Linked DNA regions of Homo sapiens: all the other regions are linked to region 1. Evidence: fine-mapped expression QTL. A gene starts in region 1. Each other region holds a variant in brackets. All regions are shown on one strand. Distances are from middle to middle.

Evidence for each region. PIP is the estimated chance that this variant, and not a neighbour inherited with it, causes the effect.
Region 2: its variant is fine-mapped to the expression of ACSF3 in whole blood (TOPMed, PIP above 0.99).
Region 3: its variant is fine-mapped to the expression of ACSF3 in monocytes (TOPMed, PIP above 0.99).
Region 4: its variant is fine-mapped to the expression of ACSF3 in whole blood (TOPMed, PIP above 0.99).
Region 5: its variant is fine-mapped to the expression of ACSF3 in blood mononuclear cells (TOPMed, PIP 0.99).
Region 6: its variant is fine-mapped to the expression of ACSF3 in sun-exposed skin (GTEx, PIP 0.97).
Region 7: its variant is fine-mapped to the expression of ACSF3 in breast (GTEx, PIP above 0.99).

What each region holds. Positions count from the first base shown.
Region 1 is chr16:89,091,354-89,095,415 of GRCh38, forward strand. It overlaps ACSF3 (acyl-CoA synthetase family member 3), which reads left to right and starts at 2,499. Exons shown (of 11, transcript NM_001243279.3): 1 at 2,499-2,643. RefSeq lists a silencer at 2,263-2,672 and an enhancer at 3,093-3,282.
Region 2 is chr16:89,116,846-89,120,907 of GRCh38, forward strand. It overlaps ACSF3 (acyl-CoA synthetase family member 3), which reads left to right. Exons shown (of 11, transcript NM_001243279.3): 7 at 3,956-4,062. Among named protein-coding and RNA genes, the nearest start is that of ACSF3, 25 kb to the left of the region's middle. RefSeq lists a silencer at 1,676-1,970 and an enhancer at 1,676-1,970. The variant C/T (reference allele first, on the strand shown) is at 2,119.
Region 3 is chr16:89,169,655-89,173,716 of GRCh38, forward strand. CDH15 (cadherin 15) reads left to right here and starts at 2,094. Exons shown (of 14, transcript NM_004933.3): 1 at 2,094-2,219. The coding sequence starts at 2,178. RefSeq lists a silencer at 1,530-2,169. The variant G/A (reference allele first, on the strand shown) is at 2,128.
Region 4 is chr16:89,131,433-89,135,494 of GRCh38, forward strand. It overlaps ACSF3 (acyl-CoA synthetase family member 3), which reads left to right. Exons shown (of 11, transcript NM_001243279.3): 8 at 1,704-1,830. Among named protein-coding and RNA genes, the nearest start is that of LINC00304, 26 kb to the right of the region's middle. RefSeq lists an enhancer at 2,637-3,536. The variant G/A (reference allele first, on the strand shown) is at 1,811.
Region 5 is chr16:89,143,069-89,147,130 of GRCh38, forward strand. ACSF3 (acyl-CoA synthetase family member 3) reads left to right here. Exons shown (of 11, transcript NM_001243279.3): 9 at 2,199-2,333; 10 at 2,870-2,981. Among named protein-coding and RNA genes, the nearest start is that of LINC00304, 14 kb to the right of the region's middle. The variant G/A (reference allele first, on the strand shown) is at 1,757.
Region 6 is chr16:89,012,649-89,016,710 of GRCh38, forward strand. No RefSeq gene overlaps it. Among named protein-coding and RNA genes, the nearest start is that of CBFA2T3, 37 kb to the left of the region's middle. The variant A/G (reference allele first, on the strand shown) is at 2,019.
Region 7 is chr16:88,552,767-88,556,828 of GRCh38, forward strand. No RefSeq gene overlaps it. Among named protein-coding and RNA genes, the nearest start is that of ZC3H18-DT, 7.2 kb to the right of the region's middle. The variant C/T (reference allele first, on the strand shown) is at 1,966.

The sequences.
Region 1 (4,062 bases):
ATCCAGTGAGGACTCCTTTAGGAAACAAGGCTTTCCTGGTCTGGGTGGTTACAGCAGCGCTGGTGGGACAGTCTCTGACAGAATTTGCAGGAGAAACCAGTAGGACTCAATGTGGTGTGGGAGGGAAGCAGGGAGCCATAGACTGAACCCCAGGATCGAGGGTGAGATGCAAAGTGTGAGGGTGGGGGCGCTGCTGCGGGGGAGACCTGAGCTCCTCTGGGGCCACATCGGGGTCTGATGTCTCTTGGATGTCCCAGTGAGATGCCAGGTGGGCACTTAGGACCCTCCCTGTCCACATGTTCTAAACTACATTGACGTCGTCTGCCTGGTTGGTGCGGCCACTTTCACTCCCTGCGCTGGATGTTCTGCAGCCCTTCGTCTGCTAATGTCCACGAGTTTACCTGACAGCTGACTTCTCTCTGTTTTCTCTGCCCTCCCTTCCTGAAACTACCGTATTTAGCATATTGGATGCCTGCCTGAGCCCACTGATTTTTTTATCTTTCCTCTCCTGTTTTTCATCTCTCGGTCTTTCTGTTCTATTTCTAGGAGACGTCCTTTAGCCCTTCCCTTAGGGTTTTTACTCAGGCTGTTGTATTCTGACCCCTCCAGCCCCCCTTTATGTTACTGGAACGCTCTTTCTCGGGGCATCTCGCTCTGGACTCATGGGGGCTGTCGCTTCCCTTGTCTCCCTGAGGGTATTAACAGGGGGTGGTTTTGGGGGTCTCTTCACTCTGCACAGCCTGGCTGCCTGCAGTTGTTCTGCTGGTTGTTTCAGCCCACGTCTCTCTGGCTAGAGGCTGTCCTCCAATGTCTGCTAATCCCTGACTGCTCCTGCTTCCCACCTGCCACTATGATGCTGACCAGAGCCGAGGCACAGATGGGACCCCTGCTCATAGGATGACTGGGCCATTTCTCGGAGACTGCACCCTCCCCCCACTGCCACCCTCACAGAGCCATGGCCAAGGACCACGGGAGCTGTCACCCTGTCCCAAGTCCTGTCTCTAGGTGGGTGACGCAGCCTGAGCTCTTCAACTTCCCAGGGATAGAAATTTGCGCACACACGTCCTGGGGCTGAATCCTGATGTTAGACGCCCTCCTTACTCTTCCTACTGCCCTCGTCGGAAACACCATTCAGCCTGCTGAGTCCTGGAAGCAGACAGAATTCTGACACCAGATCAAGCCTGTCCCAGTGGCAGAGGGTTGGACTTGCTTTTTCTGCATGATACCTAGCAGGGTGGCAACCAGAGGCACTAGAAGTTTGGGTTTGTTCTCCCACGCTCTGTGTTACAAACTTCCCCCAGATCCAGCTCCTTCCTCCCAGGAAAACCATCCTCGGGCTCCTGAAGTGCCCTTTCCTGAGCTTTCCAAGGACACAACTGCTGCCCCAGCAATCATCACAAGAGAGGAAGATGGGCATGGAAAATAATACACTTACAAAAAAACTGTGCAAGGTTCTGCAGATAATTTTTTTTTTTTTTTGAGACAGTCTCACTCTGCTGCCCAGGCTGGAGTGCAGTGGCGCAATCTCAGCTCACTGCAGTCGCCACCTCCCAGGCTCAAGAGATTCTCCTGCCTCAGCCTCCCGAGTAACTGGGATTACAGGCACCTGCCACCACTCCCGGCTAATTTTTGTATTTTTAGGAGAGACAGGGTTTCACCATGTTGGTCAGGCTGGTCTTGAACTCCTGACCTCGTGATCTGCCTACCTCGGCCTCCCAAAGTGCTGGGATTACAGGCGTGAGCCATCACACCAGGACGGTTCTGCAGATAATTTGTACTACTGTTTGCCAGTACATGTCTTTGTGTTATTAGTATTCATTTTAGGGGAAAAACCCTCAAATTTCAGCCAACTGGACTTTGTGTTTGGCTTTAAATGTTTTCCGCCACTGTCCATCCAACAGTCTCGCTTCATATTCGTATCCTGGTTCCCAAGTCCCTTCGAGGAGAGATTCTCAAATGCGGTCCGTTTAAAATCACCCAAGAAATACAAAAATTAGACAGGCATGATGGCGGGCGCCTGTAGTCCCAGCTAATTGGGAGGTTGAGGCAGGAGAATCACTTGAACCCGGGAGGCGGAGGTTGCGGTGAGCCGAGATCACACCACTGCACTCTAGTCTGGGCGACAGAGCGAGACTCCATCTCAAAATAATAATAATAATAAGAAAAAGTAACAACAATAATAATAATAATAAAATCACCCAGGAGCTCAGCGTGCAGACCCCCAGCCGCAAAGCCCAGAGAGCCCCTTTTGGGAGGACGGGGCGAGGCCCAGCAATCCGCGTTGGGAGTGGTCCCGCGCGCCGTTCTGATCTGGGCAGCCCTGGGCTAGCGGAGACCACGGCGCCTTGCCTCGGCCACGGCTCACGAGACGCCCGCGGCCCCGACCCCGCCACGACGGGACGGGCGGGACAGGGGAACACGCGCGCCCGGAACCCGCCGCCACGGCGCCGCGCCGGGGGGACGCGCTTGGGCGACGGACGCGCCGCGCCGGGGAAGCTGTTGGGCGCCGGAACTGGTCCGGCCCGACTCACGACCCCGCGGGACCCGGCCGGAACCCGGCCCGACCCCGGCGCGCGCGCGGCGGAGGACGAGGAAGAGTTGTGGCGAGGCAGATCCTGCCCCGTGGCCGCGGCCGTCTCGTAGGTGCGGGCGGCGGGGCCCACGGGACCGCGGCGGGGTCGGCCGGGCGCAGAGCTCTCGGGGGCGCGGGCTCCGGCGCCCGCCCCTGGGTCGCAGCTGGGCTTGAGCCGTGGCCCGTGGCGCGGTCGCTTCCCCGCGAGCCGCCTGGGGCCGGGCGTCGGCCTTCCCGGGACGCCGAGCCTCTCGTGTCCGGTGGGGAGCGGGGCCCCCGCGCGGGGTGCGGGGAGAGAAGCTGTGCGGACGCCGGGCCCGGTGATACCGTCGAGCCGGCGGGGTCCGTGTTCAGGCATCCTCAGAACGAATCGTCTTTGGTTGTGTTTGGAATAAATTCACTTCCATTTCTCATTGGGCTTCAGAAGTCACCCTTGAAGTACTCCCCGTTTTAGTTGTTTGCTGCGTGCACCTTGCTGGGCGCGTGGGGCACAGGTTCACAGCCGGCCTAGCCCCTGAGGGCATGTAGATCTATGAGCAAGCAATGGAGACGTGCGGCCGGCCGTGAAGTATTTGGAAGGTACTGCAGGCAGCCCATTCCCTGGAGAGAGGGAAGGTTTAAAGGGGTGAGGCCCGGTGCAGTCAGGAGTTGATGTTGCTGTCCTGAGTCTAAATTCCACCAGGCAGGCCAGGTGCAGTGGCTCATGCCTGTAATCCCAGCGCTTTGGGCAGCAGAGGCAGGAGGATCACTTGTGGCCAGGAGTTCAAAGCCAGCCTGGGCAACATGGTGAGACCCCTATCTCTACAAAAAAATGTAAAAATTAGCTGGGTGTGGTGGCGTACACCTGCACTTCCAGCTACTGGTTAGGCTGAGGCACGAGGATTTCTTGAGCCCAGGAATCGGAGGCTGCAGTGAGCCATGACAGCACCATTGCACTCCAGCCTAGGTGGCAGAGCAAGACACTGTCTCAATAAATAATAAAACTGAAAAAGAAGAGGTGATATTTGAACTGGGCTTGGAAGAATGATTAGGAATTTGCTAGAAAGGGAACACGTTTAGAGATAGGAACACGAATTGTGTCTGGGGCATAGTTGTTGCTTTCCCATCCTGGGAGGACAGACATTCGTGTTAGGGCCCAAGGCTGAGACCTTGTTGAGGAGGGGGTTCACATGGTGGACCCAGGAGCACGGGTGTTACTACCGGTGGACCCTGGGGACCCTGCGAGCTTTGTAGCGTGAAGCCTGGCTCAGGCTGGTGTCCTCTCCGCAGGTGTTGGAGGACATAAGATGAGGCTTCCCTTGCTCTTGCTCCTTTGGCTCTGAACCATCTCCTCAAGGCAGACAGAAATGGCGGATTAAACTGTGGGCTTGGGATAGTTGTAAGTGTCACCTTTCCAGATGGCATTTTTAAAATAGTATTTTTCTTCCTAAAATGGATATGGGTTTCAAGTGTATTTTTCCTTTTTGGTTTTTTTTATTTGAATGTACTGC
Region 2 (4,062 bases), 25 kb after region 1:
GGGCTGACTCGCGCATCTCCACGATGGCTGCGGCACCAGCTGTTTCTTCGGTGGCTAAAGCTCTCTGGTGGAAATAAGATGGGGACCTTGAAATCAAATGTGACTGGTCTGTTGAGTCTCTGTCCTTATCGTTGTCCTTCTTAGTAGGATGTGCTGGTTTTGTCCAGTGCCACCGGCCACAGTCACCACGTAATATGGACGGAATGAGCAAAGCCCGGCTCGCTGAGGCTGCAGGCTGCAGGCAAGTGAGGACTGAAAGGGTAACGGGCTCTGGGCTTTGTCCTCTCTTTGTTCCGGACATGTGAGCAGGACAAGTTCTGTGTATTCAGAATCTGTCTGCACAGTTTGTAGTTCATGATGACTGTTCATCCACAGCATTGCTTTGTGGGCGTCCTCTCTTTTGATCTTCTCGAAACAGCCCCTGCGATGGGGTCATATTTTGCACTCACATACAAGAACCCATGAGCCTGCCCACGGTCACGCGGCTGGTGAGTGATGCACTTCCCAGGAGCACGGTGACCTCTTCAATGGCCCTCACTAGAGAAGATGGACAGTGCCCCCCTAGCCTTTTTTACTGGAACAGATACAAGGCTGAGAAGCTGAAATCAGGAGCAGCCCAGGGACCACTGTCTACACCGAGGGAGTCATGAGCAGCCCAGGGACCACTGTCTACACCCAGGGAGTCAGGAGCAGCCCGGGGACTGCTGTCTACACCGAGGATGTCAGGAGCAGCCCAGGGACCACTGTCTACACTGAGAGCGTCAGGAGCAGCCCAGGGACCGCCGTCCACACCAAGAGCGCCAAGGAGCAGCCCAGGGACCGCCGTCCACACCGAGGGCGCCAAGGAGCAGATAGTAGCCCAGAGACCCAGGGGAGGCTCAGCTTCCCCACGCTGGAATCAGAACTCCTAGGCGAACAGGAAGGAGCCCCAGACAGATGGCACAGGGAGAGGAGTCCCCGGCTGAGGAGGGGGATCCAGAGACCCTGAAGCTTCAGGGTTATTGGGCAAGAAACCTGAGTGCACCAATCCCCGAGTCTTCAGCTACCGACGGCAGGTTCCCTCGGGTGCCGGGGATGCTCCCTCTTCTCTAAGGCAGAGCCCACAGTAGGTTCCCTCAGGCGCCAAGGACATTCCCTCTTCTCTAAGGCAGAGCCCACAGCAGGTTCCCTCAGGCGCCAGGGACGTTCCCTCTTCTCTAAGGCAGAGCCCACGGCAGGTTCCCTCGGGCGCCGGGGACGCTCTCTCTTCTCTAAGGCAGAGCCCACGGCAGATTCCCTCGGGCGCCGGGGACGCTCTCTCTTCTCTAAGGCAGAGCCTGACGGCAGGTTCCCTCGGGCGCCAGGGATGTTCCCTCTTCTCTAAGGCAGAGCATACGGCAGTTTCCCTGGGGCGCCGGGGACGCTCCCTCTTCTCTAAGGCAGAATCAAATATCTGTGATTTTATCCTTGCCTTTAAATCACCAGCAGTGTGAGTTCTTTGGTTTGGAAAAAAGTAAGTAAAGTCACCTCAGCATTAAATCCAATATGCCCCACAAAAACTCCAAAATGCAGCCTCCTGAGCCATGTTTCTAGAGGGCACGGTGGAGGAGAGCTTTCCTCACTCTCAGGCTCTAACCCCCACCCTGGTGGCCATGGCCTTGACCCTTGGGTCGGCTCCAGCCACAGGCTCTGAGCTCATGCTTGGCCTCGCTGCTCAGTGCACTGTCCGTGCTCGGAAGAGAGAGAAGCTGGGTGGAGGGTGAGCTCTGTCGTGTGTTATGGTTACAGGCCTGCTCCGTGCGGTTCCTGTGGAGGGAGATGAATAATTCATGGCCGACCACTGCTGGGCCTCGTCACACTCTAATTGGAGGTTGAGCTCAGAGGTGCTCACGGCTCCTGGGCCACTCTGTGGCATTGACAGGGAGCTCCAGGGCCTCATTGGCGGTTTCCGTTCCCTGGGTCCCAGTCCCCAGTCAGAGTTATCAGGGAGGGGCTGGCTGACAGCGATTTTAGAGGTGGGCTGTGGCAGGAAGGCAGTGCCCCCCACCTGCCTGCAGCTGCGCTCCCATCTACATTGGCCTTTGCGGGGCCAGCCTCTGTCCACTCTCTTGAGCTCTCATGTCCACACTGTCACATGCC[C/T]GGGGCACAGCGAGCGGCACCTGGAGTGTGGGGACCCCTCCCTCGAGCTCTCACGGGTGGCACCTGGAGTGTGGGGGCCCCTGCCTCAAGCTTTCATGGGTGGCACCTGGAGTGTGGGGGCCCCTCCCTGAAGCTCTCACGGGCGGCACCTGGAGTGTGGGGGCCACTCCTTGAGCTCTCATGGACAATACCACTGCTTGGCTGCTGCAGAATCCAGACACCATCCCAGAGCCTCTTCAGCCTCTGCAGATGGTGTGGGACGGCCACACGGCCTCCCCACCTGCGGCCCCCGCCCCTACCCCAGCCGTGCCGTGTCCTTGCGCTGCGTCCCCGCCCCAGTAGAGGCATCACCAGGAAGAGGCGAAAGGCCGCCTGTGATGGTCCTCTTCTTATGAAACGCCCAGAACAGAAAAACCACGGACGCGGACAGCAGACCTGGTGCCAGGTCTGGGGAGGGAGGGTGTGGCGGTCGTGGGCTGTGCGGGAGTTCTGACTAGGGGAAGTGGGGGGCTGTGCAATGTGTGTGCGGAACACCGCCGTGCCGCGCACTGAAATGGGAAGTCATGTGTTATGCGGGTTTCACCCCCATTTAAAAATCTTCAGAAGCAAAACATAAAGGAGGAGAAAGGATGGAAGAAAGGGGGCTGAAGCTGGCCCCGCCACACCCCCCATAGTGGTGACACGGGTTTCTGACCAGAGTGGAGGTTCGGGGCGTCTGCATACCTGGAACCACAGAGAACTCCCGAGGTGACACTCCGCACACCACACTAGCCCGGCTTCGCCTGCAGGACCCCAGGTGTGGACAGGCCCAGCAGGATCAGCAAGACCGAGCCGGGCACCGACAGCCCCTCACCAAGCGTCTGGAGGCCGGGACGCCCCATGGATTGCAGAGTTCACTGCACTGACCCTCGATGCTGACCCTTGAAGTGCCGGAAATCTCAGCGTGGACTCAGACATGATAAGCGTTCAGGCACTCCCCTGACGCAGGCCAGGGCAAAGGCCTCACGCCCCGGGATAGACAGGAAGTCCCACGTCTGCTCTGCCCCTAGGTCATGCCCGTGCTGACGCCACATCGCCAGGGCCGCACTCCATGAGCAGCCTCTGCCGTCCCACCAGCAACCTAAACCACAGGCAGAGCGAGGCTGCGGCAGCCCTGCGTGTGCCGGCGGGACACGTCTCGCCACCTGGGCTCTGCCCCCACCCCGGCCAGTGTAAGATATGATTTTAGCCACGTTGAGACTGTGCAGGTGGGATGGATACACTGAGCAAATCATGGGTGTCTAATAAATGAGCCAGTACAAAGTGTGGTCCACCTGCCATGCAGAGTTCAGGACAGCCCCTCCTGGGGACATAGGGCAGATCCTGCCTTAGCCCGTCGTGTGCCGGGCACACACAGGTCCCCTCATCGTGGACAGCCCCGGGGCCATCAGGGCAAGGCGCCAGCCCTCCCTGGCCAGCAAGTGTGTAAAAGTGGGAATGACACCAGAATCTGTGGGCAGCTGTGAGGCTTTGGGAAGTAACTGGGAAAGTGATGTATGAGGGGCCCAGGGCAGGCCAGGCCCAGCGTGCCACGTGAGTGCCTGCTGTGCCACATGGCCATCACTGTGGCATCGGCTGGGCCTGAGCACACCGTGCTTGCCAGCCACGTATCGTGTGGCTTTTCACCTGCTGGTGCCTACACCATCTTCTCTCTGGGTCACAGGGCACGTCGCTCCCTCCACACAGACTCCCGCACGTGGCACACGGGAGCTCAGCGGGATCCGAGCTCAGTGTGTGCTTCTCTCCTCCAGGTTCCTCTCACTCCAGCCTCCCCTTCAGTGTTTCTCCTCTCCTGTAGGTTCCGTGGGGACCCCACTGCCTGGAGTACAGGTGCGCATTGTCTCAGAAAACCCACAGAGGGAAGCCTGCTCCTACACCATCCACGCAGAGGGAGACGAGAGGGGG
Region 3 (4,062 bases), 78 kb after region 1:
CGTCTCCAGGTCCACCAGGAAAGGGAAGGGCTCTTCTAGGGCTGATGGTCCTGCAGCCGAAAATGTACCCCTGCCCCCACTGCACAGGACCTCCAGACTCAGGGTACCCAGCCCTTCCCTGCCACCTACCTCTGACACAAGGAGAAACTGAGGCACGGGGGAGAACCTCCAGCCCAAGGCTCCGAGCTGGGACTGGACCCAGGCTCCTGCCTCCTGACCTTCCTGCTGCCCTGGGAGCATGTGGAGCGGGGTCCCTCGCGGGGGCACCTGCCCCTGGGGGATAGCCCGCCAGCCAGGGAGCACACCCTCCCGCAGTGGTTAAGCCGGCTGCTTCCCTGGCCCCGCCCTGCATTTGGGGCTCACCCAGGACCTGGCCCAGCTTAGCCTTTCCCTTAGAGACCCCCACATCCCATGGAGGAGGGATTTGGCCTCCGTTTCTCCCCGAGGTGGGTGGGAGGCAGGTGGCTGAAGCGAGGTGGGTGCAGGGTGGAAGCGGAGAGGAGCTGGGGTTGGCAGACCGCAGCCTCCCCAGACCTCTTTCTGGGGGGAGGGCGAGCACTTCTACCTCACCCCTGCACTAGTCCCGTGAGGATGAAAACCAAAAGCACTCAGAGGGCTTCTCCACCCCTATTTTGAGGTCACTGACCACAGAGGCAGGATGGTGGTCCCCAACAGGCTACACCCCAGCCCCAGAGGCCTCCCAGTCTGGAGATGGACTCCCTGCCCTCTCTCATCTTGGAGCAGTGAGCGCTAGGGACAGTCCTGGCCTGAGCCTCCCGGGCAGCCTGGCCTCCTTTCAAGCAGGCCAAGTGCACAGATGCTGCCTGCACCTGCACAGCCACCCGCCGTCGACAGGAGAGCAGAGGTACCGGGTCTGCTCCCATCACAGAGAGGAACGGGCTCCCCGGCCCGGCCCTGGGCTGGTCGGCAACCCCCACTCCCCACCCTGCCTGCTCAAAAGAAAGGATCCTCCTGCCTCCAGCCCCCTCCACCCCCTCTCCAGGACCTTCCTGACCGTGCGCTGGGCCTGTGCAGGTGTTGAGCCACACCCACACCATCCCAGGGGGCGGGGTCTCGAAGGGGAGAACAGGTGCCACAGTCAACAGGAGGGAGGGCTTCTGGCCGAGGTGGCAAGGAGGCTCCAGGAGGCGGCAGCGTTGACCTTGGGTGTTGAGGGATGATGAGAAGGAGTTCTGTAGGAAGGAAGGTGCTCCAGGCAGGGGGCCTCGGGGAACAAGGGGATGCTGGAGGAGGTGCGTGGACTGGGGGAATTGGGGGTGTCCTACGAGCCACGCTGGTATCAGAGGCGTGTGAACCAGAGCAGTTCCATACTGAATAAGAGCTGGGCAAAATGAGGTCGCGAGGAGGTGCGTGGAAGGCGGGCCTAGCGTTCAGTGGGATGCGGGGAGGCGCAGGAGACGCAGCCAGAGAGGCGAGGGGCCCAAGGAAGTGCTCAAGAGGTGTCCCCCGGCAGGGACTACAATGCAGATTCCCTGGAGCAGGGGCGAGCCGGGCCCAAGGAGCAGGAAATGAAGAAGCCAGGAATCCCAGCTGGTCCCTGACCCGGACGCACCCACCCTGCCTTCCCCACAGCCTGGCCTCTGGCTCTGCTCCCAACGCAGCAAGCCGGGGTATCTCCGACCTAGCCCTGGCCCTGCCCGCCGGAACCCCGCAAAAGCTATCACTCAGCCCTCGGCCCCGCCCCGGCCCCACCCCGGCCCCACCCCGCACTCTCACAAGGTGTCACTCAGCCCTCGGCCCCGCCCCGCCCGCCCCATCCTCCTCTGGCTCCGCCCCACCAGCCTCGTGCGGTCACCGCCCCGCCGGCGCACCTGCGCTGTCACTCAGCCCTCGGCCCCGGCCCCGCCCCGCCTGCCCCACTCGCACACGGGCTATCACTCAGCCTGCGCCCCGCCCTAGCTCGCCAGAGGCTCCGCCCCACCCGCCTGCCAACACGCTGTCACTCAGCCTTAGCCCTGCCCAGGCCGGCCCTCGGCCCGTCAGAGGCCTCCTTCGTGCTGTCACTCAGCCCTTGCCCCGCCCCCTCCCCGCCCCCCTCACACGTGCTGTCTCTGTCTCTGGCCCTGGCCCGCCCCGCGCACTTGCGCTGTCACTCAGCCTGGACGC[G/A]CTTCTTCGGGTCGCGGGTGCACTCCGGCCCGGCTCCCGCCTCGGCCCCGATGGACGCCGCGTTCCTCCTCGTCCTCGGGCTGTTGGCCCAGGTAAGGCATCGGCACCTGCGGGGGTCCCCGCTGCCTCCCTCGACGCTGCGGGACAGTGTCTTCAACTGCAGCCGCACAGGTCTCCCCCAGAACCACTGGCCCTGGTCGCCTTTGGGGGCCTGTGAGCGGAGTGGCTCCGGGTGGGTCCCTGGGCTGGGGGCAGCACCCCAGGGGTTGTGGGGAGTGAGTGTAACCAAACACTCCATCTGGTGGAATCACCCCCAGGACTGCAGAGTGCTGCTGGGGTCAGGGACCCCAGGCAGGGGCCACCCAGGTAGCCGTGCCCTCTCTTTGGAGGAACCGCTGCCGGGGTCTGGGGGTTGCCAGTCTTGAGTGGAGCAGAGAGAGGGGGGAGCGGCAGGAGTGCCCCTCTCTGGGGGGCTGGGGGCCAGGTTTCTATAGGGACTCCCTGCGGTGGGCACAGGACCCCTGGCTAGTCTTGGGTTTTGTCCAAACCCCCCACCCCAAGTTCCTGGCCAGCAGGGGTGGCTGCAGGCCCTGCCCCCAGGAACTCACCCTCACGGCTACTTCTCGATTGGGAGGGCCCAGCCCGAGCCAGGTCGCAACACACGGCCTTGCAGAGTGGCGTGTGGCAGCCCTGGGGGCTCTGTTCCTGGGCTTCACCTGGGACCCTGCCGCAGCTGCCTGGGGTGATCAGGCCTGGGGGCCCAGCCCCCAGAGGCTGCTGGACTCTGCCCCTAAAAATCTTGTCTGGACTGCTGGCACCGTGGTCTCTCCAACGTGGGAGCAAGCCAGAGTGGAAGGAAGCCCAGGCCTCAGCCCCCCACACCCGACATGGGTACTGCCTAGCTGGAGCCACGTCTCCTCACACCCTAGGGGGACCTAGACATGGAGGATGTGGCCTCAGTGGCTTCAGCCCCCAGGGACTGGGCTGGGCTGGGGCATGGCCGGCTGTGGTTGGGACGTCACTGGGTACAAGAGGGCAGCCTCTCTCTGGCCAATTCGAGAGAGAATGCACATAAAGGGCTTAGCGGTGCTCACAGTATTCATTGCTCTTGTGGTCCTGGGGTGGTCAGGGAGTGCTGGACACAGTGAGTAAGGGAAGCCACTCCTTTCCCAGCCCCCACTGAAGGGGCTTCCTGAGTCCCCTCATTCCCACAGGCCTCCCAGCTCCAGCTGGCTCCAATTTCAGCCCCTGGCAGCTGACCAGGCGCCTGGCCAGCCAGACCCTCCAGCAGCTGCCCCTGAGGGCACCACGGCTCCTGCCACCCCCGACTCCCCCATCTGGAGACAGTGGTGGGGGGAGACAGTGGCTCAGCATGCGTGCTCACCCCCCGGCCCTCCACCCCTCAGCCCTCTGCCGGGGAGCGCAGGCTGGGGGGCTCCATGCCTCCAGGGCCCTTCCCCACCTGCTCTGGGGACAGGGTTTCTTCCCTGGCACCCCAACCCAGGGCATGGTGGTGGGGAGGCTGGCGCCTGTGAAAACATTCCTCCAGACCTCTTCCTTTGGATTTGGGAGTGTCTGCCTTTCAAAAGGCCCCAGGGGGCTCTGTGGCAGGTGGGGAGGCAGGCAGGACCTCTCCCTCCTCAGAAGCCTTCCCTCTCACTGTCCCTTCTTTTCTCGCCCAGGGCTGGGGGACAATAACCCCCTCCCCCGACAGCTGGAGGCTGGGGGAGGTGGTGGAGGTGGGGGCCAGATGGCAAGGGGACTATCGCCAAGGCTCAAATTCACTCCACTGTGAGGCAAAATATGTCAGTGTCAGGACCCTGCCTGCCCCTCCCCCAGCAGCTCAGCTTTCAGGACTGTGAGCTCTCCTGGGCAGCCTTGGGGTCCTGGGCCGCCTCCTGGTGAGCCCCCAGGCAGGCAGCGTGGGCCCATCAG
Region 4 (4,062 bases), 40 kb after region 1:
GTCTTTCTCAGATAATTCCAATAACTGTGTTGTCTCAGTGCTGTTGTATTCTTTTTCTATATGAGTTGCTATTTTTCTGGTTTTTTCCCGTGTTGAGTAACTTTGTATTGTACCCTGGATATTTTTAATGTTAGGGATGAGATTCTTGGTCTTGTTGACATTCTGTGAAGATGTTGAGGTGTTTGTTTTACTGTGACTTGGTTGGCTTAACTCTACAAAGTCTGACCCTCCTTCCCTGGGATTGGTCTCATTGTCATTTTATTTGTAGGGCCTTTGCCTTGCTGTCTCTACATGTCCCACAAGTGTACTGACCAGTGGCCAGTCTGACCACGTCAGTGGAGCAGATAAAGGACAGCAGTGGAAAAATTCACGAAATTCAGATAAAGTCCGTGGTTTCTTTGAAAAAACAAACACAAGGCTCTGAGCAGCCAGGAGTTAGGCTGGGCACTGCACGGAAAGCCCCGTCACCATGTGGGGCAGGTGTTTCACCCCCGTGGGTGGCGTCAGCCCCTCCTGGAGGAGCCCAGGCTGGCGGGTTGGCAGCCCCGTCATCATGTGGGGCAGGTGTTTCACCCCCGTGGGTGGCGTCAGCCCCTCCTGGAGGAGCCCAGGCTGGCGGGTTGGCAGCAGGACGACACACTCGGCAGAGGCTGCCATGGGGCAGTGTTGGCCCCACGGCGTTTGAGCGCCCTTTCTCCACATCAGATCAGTGTGTTCTGCTATTTCGCAGCTACTTCCCTGGCCCCTGGTTTTCTGAAGTCCATTCCAGATGGCAGGTGATGAGCCTCAGTGAGACTCTTGTACGCATCCCTTGACCTCCGGGGTCACAGCCAGTCACTTTCACAGTAGAGAAGAGTGAGGGTCGTGGAGCTGGCAGCTGCTCATCTGAAGCCCCTGCTCCTTCTCTGCCCTCCCCAGACCCTCCTGACCTATGAGCCGAGGGCTCGGCCGGTGTCTTCACAGACCCACCGTGTCCAGGGCCTCCCGTGCCATCTGTTCCTGGTGCTGCAGGGACCCCCAGCCCAGGCTCATATAACCCAGCCTCCCTCCCGCCCTCTCCATGGTCACAATAGAAGAACAGTGAGGCTGTGTTTCCTGGGGCCATGGCAGTGCCTGCATGCTTAACAGGGGCCTCCAGGGACCCTCCACCCTCAGGCCCCACCTTCCCTTCCCACGGAGTCTTCCCTCTTGTAATTGGTCACTCAGCCCTGTGGAGGGCGCTGCCCGCTCCAAGCTGCCCCAGCCCCTGTGGGCAAGGTGTGGACAGGTGCCCGCTGCTGTGTTCCCTGGTTTGAGAAACGCCCCCGAAGATGGGATTTGGGCACAGGTTTTAGACGTGGACAGGCTGCCTGAATCCAGCCCAGGCTCTGAGTGCTGAGGCCTGGGCCGGTAACATGCTCAAGTCTAGAGGATGGGGTAGGAGCACGTTCTTCTGTGGCTGTTCTGGGAGGAATGAAAGGACACCCAGCTCCCGGCCAGGGCACCAGGGCCCACAGAGGACGGCGGGAATGCTTAGCTCAGCATGGTTGGCTTCCACCTGTCAAAGCTGCGTTTTCCAAGCATTCCAACAAAGCGCTCAGTTTCAGAAAGCACGCGGCCCTGGGTGGGCCCTGGGTGGGCAGGGAGCAGCCCACAGTTTCAGAAAGCACCAATCCCAAGAGGGTGTGCCCAGCTCTGACCTCCATGTTCTTCATCCTCCACAGGTGACCCCAGGGTTTGAAGAAAAGGAGGGGGAGCTGCTGGTGAGGGGACCCTCCGTGTTTCGAGAATACTGGAATAAACCAGAAGAAACTAAGAGTGCATTCACCCT[G/A]GATGGCTGGTTTAAGACAGGTAGGACCCAGCCCCATGGGAGTGGAGGAGACCCCGAGGGGACAGGCAGGAACTCATTGCTGCCCACGTTGAGTGACACCGAGGCTGGGAGTTCCCAGAATTTTCAGCCAAAGGCAGAAGATGGGGTGGAGTGGGGCTGGGGGCCACTGTTACGGCACTGCCTCCTGAGCACCCGGCCTCCCCACCGGCTTCTAGAGTGGGCTCCTTGGCCCTGTCCCTCAGTGCCAGGGGCCCCAGTGCCCCATGACAAGGCTTCTACACTGTCCCTCAGCGCGACAGCCGCTCCGGCACGCACGCACCCTGACCACAGACGCCGGGCCCCACGCAGCCCTTCCTGGTGGCCCTGCTGCCCCTCGTGGGCTGGGGCACCCTCCACCTCCGAGGTGTACCCCTGTACCCAGAGACCTCACCACCCCCACGCTTAGCCACACTTGTGCCCTCCACATCCTTCTCCCCACCAGAGTCAGAAGTCAGCTGACGCAGTGCGGTTGGTTTGCAGTGCGGCTGTTTGTTTACTGTTCCACAAATTAGCACATTCTCTCTGCCTGCCAGAACAGGCCTGTGGGTGAGTGGGAACCTGCCCACCTGATTGAGGTGGCCCAGGAAGCCTGTGGCGGTCAGGAGAGACGGCGGCGCCCCTGGAGCCTGCTGGCAGCCCCCACTGCCACCCTCCTGCTCTCCCTGAGCCTGCCCTGAGCTGCTGCTGCCTGACCCCCCTCCTTTGTGAGAAGCTGGCTTGGTCCCAGGATCCCACATCCCGCCCCATGGGGCGTATTTGGACAGTGGATATTTCGACATTTGGATAGTGGACGTATATGGATGGACATTTGGATAGCGGACGTATGTGGATGTGTTACTAGGGGGTCCTTGCTCCCAGAGCTCCCAAGATGGTAGCGGGCAGCTTCCAAAATGGCGGCAGGCTGCTTCCAAGATGGTGGCAAGCGTCGTGTTCTCTGACCTGGGGTTCTTGGCCTTATGGATTCCAAGGAATGGAATCTTGGGCCATGCGGTAAGTGTTATAGCTCTATTAGAAGCCGTGGGCCACAGAAAAGAACCATGGAACCCAGTGACTAGTGTTCAGCTTGATTAGGATGAACGTGGGTGCTTAGCCGTGCAGGAACAATGGCGAGCCTTTAGGCCAGTCGGGAGTGGCAGTGGGTGCCTCGCTGGATCAGGAGCACAGTGGACACCCTGCGGGATCCGGAGGAATAGAAGTCAGCGGCGGGTCTGCAACGGCGGCAAGCAGCAGTGGTGGACGGCGAGCGAAAGCTCAACTTGAGCCGTAACTACCACGGACCAGAAGAGAGTGTAGTTGCAAGATTTAATAGAGTGAAAACAGAGCTCCCATACAAAGGGAGGGGACCCAGAGAGGGCAGCCGTTGCCAGGTTTATATCCCGATCATTGTCCCTCCTGCTGTGCTCTGAGGAGATAGATGATTGGCTATTGTTTACCTCCTGTTTTAGCCTAATTAGCATTTTAGTGAGCTCGCTTTACTACCTGACTGGTCGGGTGTGAGCTAAGTTGCAAGCCCCCTGCTTAAAGGTGGATGTGGTCACCTTCCCAGCTAGGCTTAGGGATTCTTAGTCGGCCTAGGAAATCCAGCTAGTCCTGTCTCTCAGATGGACATTTGGATAGTGGACGTATGTCCATGGATATTTGGATAGCAGACGTGCGTGGGTGGACATTTGGAGAGTGGACACACGTGGTTGTGTGGCTGCAGGTACTCACTGTAGTGTATTTATCCGGAAGATGTGCACGTTGCTCCTGACCCCTGGGTGGTGAGATTGCGGTGGTTTTTCTTTTCCTGGTTTTTTTTTTTTTTTTTTTGGCCTGTCTATATTTTATGCTGAACATCATTATTTTATAATAACCTTTAAGTAATATTTTCCAAAAAAAAGAGGCCCATTTTCATGCATCAGAATCTGCTGGCCCAAAATCAGAAACGCATCTGCCCCATGCCCTTCCACAGGGAGCAGAGCGGGGGGCTGCAGCGTGCAGGCGGGATGGGCTCCTTGAGGGATGCTGGAAGGGGCAATGTTGGCCTGCAGCCTCTCCGCCTCATGGCCTGATCCTGTGGGTCCCAGAGGCCCTGGAGCATGTGCTGCTGTGAGGCAGGTGTGCTAGGTGTGTGGCAGTTCCGCACGTTTGCAAAGTGAAGGCTCCGTGAGCCCCTAGAGCAGAGGCCAGTGCCCCACGCAGCATCTCATAGGCTTCCCAAGGTACCCTGGGAG
Region 5 (4,062 bases), 52 kb after region 1:
AGCAACATTTTAAAACTTATAAAAAAGATTCGCAGGAAATTAGAAATAACACACAGGGGTTCCTTGTGCCGTCCCCCCAGTTTCTCCCAGCATCAGCCTGGTGTGTAACGGTGGTACATCCTCAGTGCCGTGCGTAGCTTTGGTGCAGTCTCAGCCCCGTGCGTAGCTGTGGTGCAGCCTCAGCCCCGTGAGTAACTGTGGTGCATCCTTGGAGCCAGGACACAGGCAGCTCAAGAGGGTGCCGGGGACTTGTCAGCCTTGGGGGCAGGCAGTGATGGCCTCTCCGGCAGGACCAGAGCAGGGCAGTGGCTCCATGCTGCGCTGGGTCTCTGGGTGGTGCAGGCCAGGGTGGAGCCAGGCCAGAAGCTGTATGGAGGGCCCTGAGCACCTGGCAGCCTCCCTGGTGTCAGCAGCTGTGGCATCCGTGGGGCAGGAGCAGCCTGGACGGGGTGGCTCGGTGCGATTAAGAGATGCTATTGGAAGATTGGTGGCTGTCTGGTCCAGAGGGGACACACAAGCCAGGCTGCACAGCAGGAGCAGGAGCCATGGCGGGTCCCACGGGACTTGGGACAGGCTGTGTCCAACCCCGCCCACAGCCCAACCTGCACACCCCCTTCCAGCCGCCCAGACTACCCCAGGGGCGCAGTGAGACCACTCTCCTGTCGGGGAGCCTCTGGTTTTTCTGCTACCCATCAGCACAGAGTTCCAGAGTTCCAGAGCTCCATAAATAAGCCTGGAGCCCACCTGGGCACACCCATCCGTCTTGTTTAATAGACTGAGGAGCACGCCATGGGTCTCAAGGAGTGGTGAGGTGGATGGATGGGGCCTTTCTGCGTCCAACAGCATGATGTATAATGAAGTATTTATGATTTATTCCAGCTAATAACCCATGTGGAGTGCAGGGTATGTGGAAGCAGACAGTTGAGGCCTCAGCACTGCCCTTACATGCCCTGCATGCTCCCACAGCCACGGCACACATGTGTGCGTGCACATGCTCACAGTCACGCATACCGCGCCCTCCCAGCTGCACACACGCTCGCAGGCACGCACACTATGGGCCCATGCGTCATGAGACAGCTTCGGGCTGGGAGTACAGGCTCTGAGGCTGCAGCCCGCTCTTCCCGACTCCCCACCCTCAGTGGCTGGTGGTGTCTGTGTTGAGCTACTCGAGAAAGGAAGAAAACGAAGGAAGCTTGGTTCCCACAGGAGCTCCAGGAACTGCACGGGGAGGAGCAAGGGCCACGTCGTGGCTTTGCCTTAGGAAGGAAAACGTGGGGCAGCCCCGGCCATTGTTCTAGGACCAGCATGGTCAGGTGTGGAGGGCACAAGATGGGCACCAGCAGGAGGCTCCAGGCACCCAGGAAAGGCCCTGTCCTCCTCAGCCACCAGCCCCTCCCTGTGGCCTCTGCGTGGGCCTTGGTGCCTCTCCCATCCAGAGGGGCTGGGCATTCACTGCTGGAGCCCACCGTGGTGGGATGTTGTAATGTGTCTGGTTCACTTCTTTTACTGAATATTTGGCCTGGATTCTTTTGTGGGCCTGAGAGAAATGGCAGGACAGGGCCTGGTGGGCCTCGGCCCCTCTCCCAGAGCAGCCTGCCTGCATGAGGGGCGGCCCCTCTATGCTGCAGTCCCAGGGGCTCCGTCTGGGGGCCCTTGCAGCAGTAGCAGCACAGCCAGGAGGCCCAGCACACCCTGGCACCCATCCTGAGGGAGGGTAAAGCATCAGACCCTGTGCTTGTTGCTCAGAAAAGGCCAC[G/A]CATCCCACCCATGGCCAGTGGTTATCAATCACTGTCACAGAAACAGGGCCTGAGCCGGCTTCCTAATGCAGGGTGTCTGCAGACCACAGGCCCAGCAGGGCTTCTGGCACCTCCTGCTCCTGGCAGGCTCTGGACCCACTGCTGACCTGCCCCTGGAGGAAGTGCATACAGCTGAGCATGGGGAAGGGACCCCACAGGAAGGGCAGACCCCACATCATGGGCACAGTCCCACCTTGGGACGCACGTCGTGACCACCAGGAATGTGGGCTTACCTGGCATAGCTGTTTCTCCGTTGGGGTTGCCACAGGGTAGTAACCAGAGCCCCCTTTCCTCAGAGGACACCGTGGTGTTTAAGGACGGCCAGTTAACCAGAGCCCCTTTTCCTCAGGGGACACCGTGGTGTTTAAGGATGGCCAGTTAACCAGAGCCCCTTTTCCTCAGGGGACACCGTGGTGTTTAAGGATGGCCAGTACTGGATCCGAGGCCGGACCTCAGTGGACATCATCAAGACTGGAGGCTACAAGGTCAGCGCCCTGGAGGTGGAGTGGCACCTGCTGGCCCACCCCAGCATCACAGGTGCGTGGCCGGACTTGGGCCAGGGAGGCCAGGCTAGACGGGTGCTGCCTTCCATGTTTGAGTTTTAGACGACTGCAGATGAGTCGACGCCGTCCCAGCTGCCTGCAGGGGTCCCTGTGATGCTCACCTCTGGTCCCTGCCCTGGCCAGGGAACATGGGGCTAGTGGGGGTGCAGCCTGCTCGGTGTTGGAGCCACTGACCCCGTGCCCACCAGAGCTCCCAGGCCTGGCCGGGCGCAGCTCCCATCTGCATGATTCCCCTGCAGGAAGGTGGCAGGGAGAGTGCAGAGAGCCAAGGGGCGGGAAGGCAGAGCCCCTGTGAGTGCCCAGTCCCCAGATCCACCGTGGGGAGCCCGTCCTCACTCCCCTCCCCACAGGCCCAGCCAGCACCAGGACGAGTGATTGGAGTGGGGCCTGTCCAAGGACGGGCTCCAGGGCTGCGGCCAGACTGCGCTCTTCCTGTGTGTCCAGGCACTCTTCGGCCTGTAAGGGTCACTGAGGCATCCCCATGTTCTCAAACTGTTCTTCTATCCGCAGATGTGGCTGTGATTGGAGTTCCGGATATGACATGGGGCCAGCGGGTCACTGCTGTGGTGACCCTCCGAGAAGGACACTCACTGTCCCACAGGGAGCTCAAAGAGTGGGCCAGGTAGGGCTGGGTGGGGCGGGCAGGGAGCACTCATGGGGTCTTGGGGGTCCAGTCTTGAGGGCCACCCTAGGTATTGGCATCGTCCGTCTTAGAGGTGGAGATGAGGGATCAAGAAAGACCAGCAGTGAGGGTCCTTAGAGACCTGAAGGCCGCACACAGCAGGTAGAGACGAGGGCAGGGGGCAGGAGCCGTGCTCAGATTTGACTTGGTGGCAATATTCCGAGGGGGCAGAAACTCACATTCCTGGGACAGGGCCCTGTACGGCCTGTGGTGGGTTCCGTCCTGGTCCCAGGAGAGATCCCGGATGAGCCAGGCCAGGCCCATGCAGGAGGTGCATGGAGCTGAGATCCAGGGTTGACACCAGCTGGCCGCACGCGCTGGGCCCTTCCCCGCCAGGCCACAGGCAGCCTGTCCACCTGCCGCCCCAAAGCCAGTGCTGGGCCCCAGCAGAACTGCAAGGCCCACCCATTCTCCGTCGGCACCTGCACGGCCTCTCCCTCTCCTGCCCTGGGGGTGGGTCCTGAAGGTGCCTCACACACCTCCAGTCAGTTCCACGGAGACCCCAGCACCATCACCATCCCCTCAGTCATTTCACTTTCCCCTCCATGTCCAGGGCAGGGCCTGTTCCTCAGCGGTGGCCACCACCCAGTCCTTAAACTCACCTGCATTTTTTGTTTTGCCTTTACCTTACCCAGAACCTTTCCCCAAGGACTTTCTCCCACCTGTCTCACCCCCAGTGGTTTCTGATGCATGGGATCCACAGACCCTCCACTTTTGCCAGCAGTGGTGGTGGTCACGCCCAGGGCTGAACCTGAGCTATGGCCTTGTCAAAGGCCGTCAGGACGGAAGGGTATCCCATAGGACCGTCAGGGCAGAGCCAGGCTGAGCTCAGAAAGGAAGCTTTTAGTTTCACCTACAGTAATTTCTTTTGTTTTTTTAATTTATAAAGAAACGGGGTATAATTGGCTCATGGTTCCACAGGCTATACAGGAAGCGTGGCTGGGGAGGCCTCAGGAAACTTACAGTCATGGCAGAAGGCAAAGGGGAAACAGGCACATCCTACATGGCCGGAGCAGGAGGG
Region 6 (4,062 bases), 79 kb before region 1:
CCATTCCTCCACCCACCCACCCTTCCATGCACCCACCCACCCTTCCATGCACCCACCCACCCATTCATCCACCTGTCCATCCATGCACAGGTATTTGCTGAGCTGGTGCCACATGCACTGGCACTTTGCTAGCCTTTGGGAAGCACAACAGTAAAACACAGGTCATGTTTACCTCAAGTTTCCAATCTATTGTGAAGCTGCAGGCAGAGGCGAACTCATCTTGGGGGCTTGCAGGACACAATCCCATGAGGTAGAGAAGTAAATCAGGCAGAGGTGAACGCATCTTGGGGGCTGCAGGAAGTAAAAACATTAGCACCTGGGTTTGTGTGTCTTTTCATCCCATCTCATTCTTTATGTGACTCCTTCTGTATACCAGTTTTACAGTGCAGGGGGGTGCTCAGGCACGTCTCTCTGTTTAGGGGCTGCAAGGAAGTGAGCCACTGGGTGGCTGAGCCACGTAAACAAGAAGAGGAGTAACAATCTAAACTGAAAGGGCTTGTGGCTGGGTCACAGTCTGCAGGAGAAGGGAGGGTTCATCCGGGTCTTGGATGAATTTGTTGGATGGGAAGTTGGTGAAGAACATTCCGTGGGCAGGACAGGTGCAGCCAGCAGGGGTGGAGAATGAGAAGACACTCAGGGCATGGAGTTTTGGAGCTGGGGCTGCAGGAGGCGGGGACAGAGGCACTGTCGATGGGTATGGCTTTGATGCTGGTTCGCAGGCAGCCTGAATTCCACCTGGTCGATATCAGAAGCTGCTGAAGGAGGATGAGGGCATCTGGCCTCAGCCATGAGACTGATTGAAGCTCTGTGGGGACCAGGAGGAAGTGGGGGCTGAAGCTGCTGGGCAGGGGGTTGGGGGAGATCTGGCTGAGTCTGAAAGGTAAGGTGCTGTTCGCAGTGGCAGGTGTGTCATTAACTTGCTGTGGAACCAAACACCCAGATCTCAGTGGCTTCAAACAACAGCAATGTGCCATTCTCCTGGGCTGACAGTTGGGGATGGCAGCTGGCGCCCCTCGGGTCTCCTACAGGCAGCCGGCAGCTCCTTCCATGGGGTTCTCTGGGCGGCTGCGCGAGGGCAGAGGTGGAGGCCACGCAGCCTCTTAGGGCAGGACACCACTTCCACCACGTTCTGTGGGTCAAAGCAAATCAGACGCCCACCCAGGCTCAGGAGGGGGACCTCCACCTCTTCATGGGAATTTCAGCAAATCCCTGTGGTCGCAGCGCCGGGGGCCCAGTGTCTCCCGAGTGCGTCCACATGTGTGCTGAATGCAGGCTGTGGAGTGCAGGGGAGAGAGGTGAGCGCCTGGGCGGGTGAGCGGGGAGAGGTGAGCACCTGGGCGGGTGTGCAGGCAGAGAAAGAGTGAGGAAGGTCCACCTTCAGCTGGAGCTGAGGACAGGGCTGCATTTGGGGAGGAAAAGGGGCCAGATGGGAGTTCTGTGCCAGGCTGGGGTTCGGGTCAGGAAGGCTTCTCCACAGAGCGGCGTGATCACATCTGGATCTGGCAGGAGTGGGGAAGGACAGTCAGGAGTCGATGGGGAGATGGGACTGGGTGGGGGCAGCAAGGATGGAAGGTGGGGAGACAGACGCTGTGGAGGCCCAAGGGGACTCTGGCTGGTGAACGAGGACACCCCCAGGCTCTAGGCCCCCACCCCAGGGCGGAGAACCCCCACTTCCCAGGTCCCGAGGGAGCCCTGTCTCACTTCTCCGCTGAGGCCAAGGCTCGTTTCCAAAGAGGAGAGGAAGAGGGGAGGGGAGGGGAGGGGAAGGGAAGGGAGGGGAAGAGAAGGGAGGGGAGGGGAGGGGAGGGCAGGGGAGAGGAGGGGAGGGGAGGTGAGGGATGTTCAGATCAAGAGCCCCACTGGGGAGAGCTTTAAAAAATGCAATTAAATGGAAAATAATTAAATCCAATTAAAAATGAGCAGTGGGGGGTGGGGAGTGGGGGGATGCTGGGACTGCAGGGAAGGCTTGGGCTGCCCTGTGCAGTCTGCAGTCTTCCTGATTGCACTTTCGAGGTGGA[A/G]AAAGGAGGCCAGACCTGGCCCCCAACACTGTGGGAGCGCCCAGTGGCTGCAAAGCCGGGGCCACCAGGCCACGCTCTCCTGGGACCTGCCCCGCTGGACCGGGGACGTCTGTCACCGCTTCTTTCCCAGCCGCTCTCTCCCACCTGCTGGGGCTCCCCAGGGCCCCAGGCCCCCTTTGGAACACCCAGTCTTGCTCTCCTCCAGTCAAGCCACATTCCATGAGAGCACCTGAAGGGGATTGGCTAGGGGCCGCCTCGAGACCCTCTGGCGTGGAAACCGTCAGCTGGTGAGCACATGGGCCAGCCGGGGTGTTTGTTACATGTGCATTTCCTGACCCCGCCCAGTCTGGCTGGATGGATCCTGGGCATCTGAATTTATGTGAAGCCCAGGTGGGTCAGGTGGCAGTCAGGTGGCTCAGGTCACACCTGGAGACCCCATCTAGTGCCGCCCCCTCTTTACAGAGCATTGCCTGGGGCCCTCCTTGCTGAGCTGAGGGACGGCCCAGGCTGCATCCCCCCGCCAGGAGGTGGCCTCTGCTGGGTCCTGGAGAGCTGGTTCCCGAGCTAAGGCCAGAGGTGCTGCTGAGGGGTCTTTGCCTAGGCCACTAGCAGGGGCTGGATGAGGAGGGGGGCCACGGCTTTGGCGGCTGGTGCCTGACCTTGGCAGAAGGACCAGGAGGGGGACGGCGGCTTTGGCGGCTGGTGCCTGACCTCGGCAGGAGGACGAGGAGGGGGATGGCGGCTTTGGTGGCTGGTGCCTGACCTCAGCAGCAGCCTTCCCCGATGGGCTTCTGGGAACTTGCTGCCTCCTCCCTGGGCTCCCAGCTGCTTCCCTCCCCTGCAGCACCCCTCTCAGATCTGCCACGGCTGTATGCAGGTGGCTTCACCCCTGGGCTGGGAGCTGGAGGAGGCAGACCTAACAGGCGGTGGGCCCAGCCCAGCAGACATAGCCGCTGCTCACAGCAAGGAGTGCAGGGACCTCAGCAAGGCTGGCTGCCAAGGTGGAACCACTCTGCCGAGGCTCCCTGCACCCTGCACGAGGCTCCCCACACCCTGCCCAGGGCTCCCTGCACCCTGCACCCTGCCCGGGGTTCCCTGCACCCTGCACCCTGCCCGAGGCTCCCCGCACCCTGCCCGAGGCTCCTGCACCCTGCCCGAGGCCCCCTGCACCCTGCCCGGGGCTGGCATCCCACACTCTGCACAACAAACGCCTGGTCCTGGGGCACGGGGGCTGTGGGGAGGCGAACTCCACGCAGGAGCAGGGGGCTGAGGAGGGCCTGTCTGCCCCAATTAACACTCCAGGATCATCGCTGAGCAGAAACCCCATTCTTGGAGGTAGGGCCTAGAGAGGCCTAGAGAAGACATCATTTTTAATTTAAAAAAATGTAAATGTTAAATAGGGAAGACATGCCTATAACACCAAGCCCAACAGCTAGCACAGTCAACAGTCAGCACAGTCAACAGTCAGCACAGCCAACAGCCAGCACAGCCAACAGCCAGCACAGTCAACAGCTAGCATAGTCAACACCCAGAACGGTCGACAGCCAGCACGGTCAACAGCCAGCAAGGTCAACAGCCAGCACAGCCAACAGCCAGCACAGTCAACACCCAGCACAGTCAACAGCCAGCACGGTCAACAGCCAGCACGGTCAGCAGCTAGCATAGTCAACACCCAGAATGGTCAACAGCCAGCACGGTCAACAGCCAGCATGGTCAACAGCCAGCACGGTCAACAGCCAGATGGTCAACAGCCAGCACAATCAACAGCTAGCATAGTCAACACCCAGCACAGTCAACAGCCAGCACAGTCAACAGCCAGCATGGTCAACAGCCAGCACGGTCAACAGCCAGCACGGTCAACAGCCAGATGGTCAACAGCCAGCACAGTCAACAGCCAGCACAGTCAACACCCAGCAGAGTCAACAGCCAGCACAGTCAACAGCTAGCATAGTCAACACCCAGAATGGTCAACAGCCAGCACGGTCAACAGCCAGCAAGGTCAACAGCCAGCACGGTCAACAGCCAAGCACAGTCAACACCCAGC
Region 7 (4,062 bases), 540 kb before region 1:
AGAAGGAGACAGAGACACAGAGGAGGGGCTGTATGAAAACGGACAGCGAGAAAGCCACCAGCCAGGAGCTGGAGAGGCAGGAAGGGGCCTCCCTGAGCCCTGCAGGGAGGGCAGCCCTGAGACCTCTTGGTTTCAGATTTGTGGCCTCCAGAGCTTTGAGAGAGTAAATTTCTGTTGTTTTAAGCCTCCCACCTCCCGGCTGGTGGTCACGTGTGACGGGGCAAAAACCGAGCCCCGGACCTCACAGGGGTAGAAACCGAGCCCCAGGCCTCAAGGCTTTGCACCTGGGTTCTTGCTATTTAAGTGCACGCTGCACCTCTGACAGCAGCGGGGAGGCTCCTCCAAGACACAGCTGCGTGGCGGCTCTTTCTCCCACGACACAGCATGGCCAGAGGCCCACAGGACGCCACAGAGGTGGTGCCAGCCGGGCTCCCTGGGCTTTTCATAGACCTGGCATCACAGGTGCCACTAAGAGGAAACATTTTGCCAAGTCCTTCAGATAGTGCTCCCAAGAGCCACGGTCGTTCTACTTTATTTTTCTCAAAGCCACGGTTTCAGGTGAGAGAAGAGTTTTCTCTGTCTCCCTCAAACCTGCCATGAAAAGTGAGTTAATCTGCCAGGCGCGGTGGCTCACGCCTGTAATCCCAGCACTTTGGGAGGTTGAGGCAGGCGGATCACAAGGTCAGGAGATTGAGACCATCCTGGCTAACACAGTGAAACCCCATCTCTACTAAAAATACAAAAAATTAGCCGGGCGCAGTGGCGGGCGTCTGTAGTCCCAGCTACTCGGGAGGCTGAGACAGGAGAATGGCATGAACCCGGAAGGCGGAGCTTGCAGTGAACTGAGATGGCACCATGCACTCCAGCCTGGGTGACAGAGCAAGACTCCATCCCCCCAAAAAAAAAAAAGGAAAAGTGAGTTAATTTCACACTCAGGAGGGACAGCATTGGTCATTTAATAAAGCTGCAGAAGCTTGCCTAACTTCAGTGCAGTAACCAAAATTAACGAGTTTATACACTTTCCATTAAAAGACACTTCGTGTGAATGTAGAGGGGAATGCGTGCCGAGTGGAGATCCACTGCTGTTTTGTGGGATCTGGGGAGGAAGGAGTCAGCCCCGGTGGGTTCCTGCAGGGCTGCCGTCTGCAAGCTCCAGCCAGGGCGGGACGCACGCAGTGCAGAGCTGGGACGGACGCCCGCAGTGCAGAGCTGGGACGGATGCGCAGCTGAAATTCCGGCACTGCCACCTCCTCTCTCTCTGACTTGAGCCTGGGGTAGGGGGATCTTCAGTGAGGTCTGGAAAAAAATGACAGAGATGTTATTGCTTCTGTGAAAACCCCAGTGTGCCTGGGGACATCGGCCCAGGCTCATCACTGGGTCACCGCCGGAGGAAGGCCTCCGCGTTTGCTGGTGGCCTCATCACAAGTATAAAATGTTTACAGCCCCAGCTAGCAGAGAGGTGGGAGCCTGGGCAGGTCACCAGGAAGCCCCGGTCAGGCTGGGGTGCTGGTCTCTGGACGAGGGTCCTGTGGCTGCTGGAACAAAAAACCCCAGAGTTAGTGGCTTGAAACCACACAGCTTCATCCTCTCACAGTTCTGCAGGCCAGAAGCTAACGCAGGTTTCTCAGGGCTAAAACTGAGGTGTGGGCAGGGCTGCTTCCTCCTGGAAGGGCTCCGGGGAGAATCCGTTCCTCGCCTTTCCCAGCTTCCAGAGGCTGCCTGCGTTCCTTGGCTCTCAGCCCCTCCTCCATCTTCAGAGCCAGCAGGGCAGCCTCTCCTCTCCTCTCTGACCTGCTGCCCGCCTCTTACGAGGACCTTTGTGGTTCAGGGGGACCCGCCCGGATAATCCAGGGTCATCTCCCCTCTCTTGATCCTTAACTCAGTCATATCTGCAAAGTCCCTTTTGCCAGTGGGGTCCCAAGGGAAGAGCAAGGGTCAGGTCTGGAGCACTCAGGAGGAGAGACT[C/T]GAACCTGGAGGTTATGGGCGAGTTCACACCAGGCCCCTGCCCTTGCCTTGTATCTCAGGGACCCAGTCTCTGTCCCAGCCCTCCTCCCTACTCCTTCCGCTGGTCCCGCCTCAGCCAGGCCCCTGGGAGCATTCGAGTCCTCATCTGAAGACCCGCAGCAGCAACCTCGGCCCCACCCCCAGCCCAGCTGGGCCTCCCTGACACAGCCTTCCCGCCTCCTCTCTTGAGCAGGGATGGGCAGTGGGCAGCTGGGAGGCAGGGAGACAGGGACAAAGGACTCCCCTTCCAGGGCTGGTCCAAGCCCCTCCATGCTGGCGCCAAAGGCCTGGTTGGCTTTGAGGGAGGCCCTGCAGCTCCCAGCCTCCCCGCTCCCTCCCACAGCTGCCAACCCTCCACCAGGGAACCCTTGTCTGAGCCAGGGGCCACCGCCCTTCCCCACGGCCCCATTCCTCCAGCCTTGCAAGGCGCCAAGCAAGGGGCATCTCTCTCCCTCGGGCCTCATCCTGCACGCCTGACCTTTCCCATCCCAGGTGTTATCATAACCTTTTAGCAGAATTTTGCCTTAATTCTCAGCATTTTTGGCTTTCTTTTTTTTTTTTTTTTGATAGAGTTTCACTCTTGTCACCCAGGCTGCAGTGCAGTGAGGCGATCTCGGCTCACTCCAACCTCCGCCTCCAGGGTTCAAGCGATCCTCCTGCCTCAGTCTCCCAAGTAGCTGGGATTACAGGCGCATACCACCACACTCAGCTAATTTTTTGTTTTAAGTAGAGACAGGGTTTCGCCATGTTGGCCAGGCTGGTCTTGAACTCTTGACCTCAAGTGATCTGCCTGCCTCAGCCTCCCAAAGTGCTGGGATTACAGGCATGAGCCATTGCACCCGGCCCCCATCCCAGTGTGTTACCATAAACTTTTAGCAGAATTTCCGCTTAATTCCCAGCATTTTCAGCTCCAAGTCTTAACACTTCCCCTCTGTCTTAATGTGGCTCCAGTGGCCCTTCGTCTCTCCCCTGCCCCTTCCATGCCTCCCGCCCCATCCCCACCCCCTCTGCCCACCCCCTGGCTCCTCTCCACCCCCAGCCCCTCCACAGCTCTTTGTCTCCACCTCTAAGACTGGGGCTCCTGGAAGCCACTGGTCCTCATCTTATTATCATCCTGGTCTCCACGGAGCCCAGGACGGAGACTCACACAGCTCAGTGGAGCGTCGCCAAGCTCGGAGGGCACGCAGCACCCTAGCAGCACCTGCAATGGCACCTGTGCTCTCTCTCGGGAGGAGATGATGGCCCCAGCTCAGGGCCCAGAATTCGCGCCTGACTGTGCCCCCTTCCGGACCTAAGGACCGCCCTCTGCTGTGCTGGGACTGCCTATGTCTAGACAGAGCGGGGCTCACTCCCCGACCCAAAGGGTTCCCCAGAGTGTGGCCCCATCTCCAAGGCCCTGCTGCCCCCACTGAAAACCCGCCCAGCCCATGGTGAGCACCGCAGAATTCACAAGGCGCTTCCTGCAGACACTTTCTCCCAAGCGGGCCATGCCTTCATTGCTACTCAGATCTCCCTAAAGCCACTGATGTGGTTTGGCTCTGTGTCCCCATCCAGATCTCATGTCGAATTGTCATTCCCAAGGTTAGGGGAGGGGCCTGGTGGGAGGTGACTGGATCACGGGGGTGGATTTCCCCCTCACTATTCTCAGATAGTGAGTTCTCACGAGATCTGATGGTTTTAAACTATGCGGCACTTCCCCCGCCCCCCACTTTCTCTCTCTCTCTCCTGCCGCCATGTGAGGACGTGCCTGCTTCCCCTTCACCTTCCACCATGATTGTGAGTTTCCTGAGGACTCCCAGCCATGCTTCCTACACAGCCTGTGGAACTGTGAGCCAATTAAACCTCTTTCTTCATAAATGACCCAGTCTCCAGTAGTTCTTTAGAGCAGTGTGAGCCTGGACTCACACAGTCACCCATTTCCGGGACCTTTACCACCAGGCCAGGCAGCCACCAGTCACTTTACACACAGCATCTCGTTTCCTAGCACCTGGGCGAAAGTGCTGTTTTCAGCTCTACTTACAGGCAAGGATGGAAAACCCAGAGGGTTCAGCCAGCCTC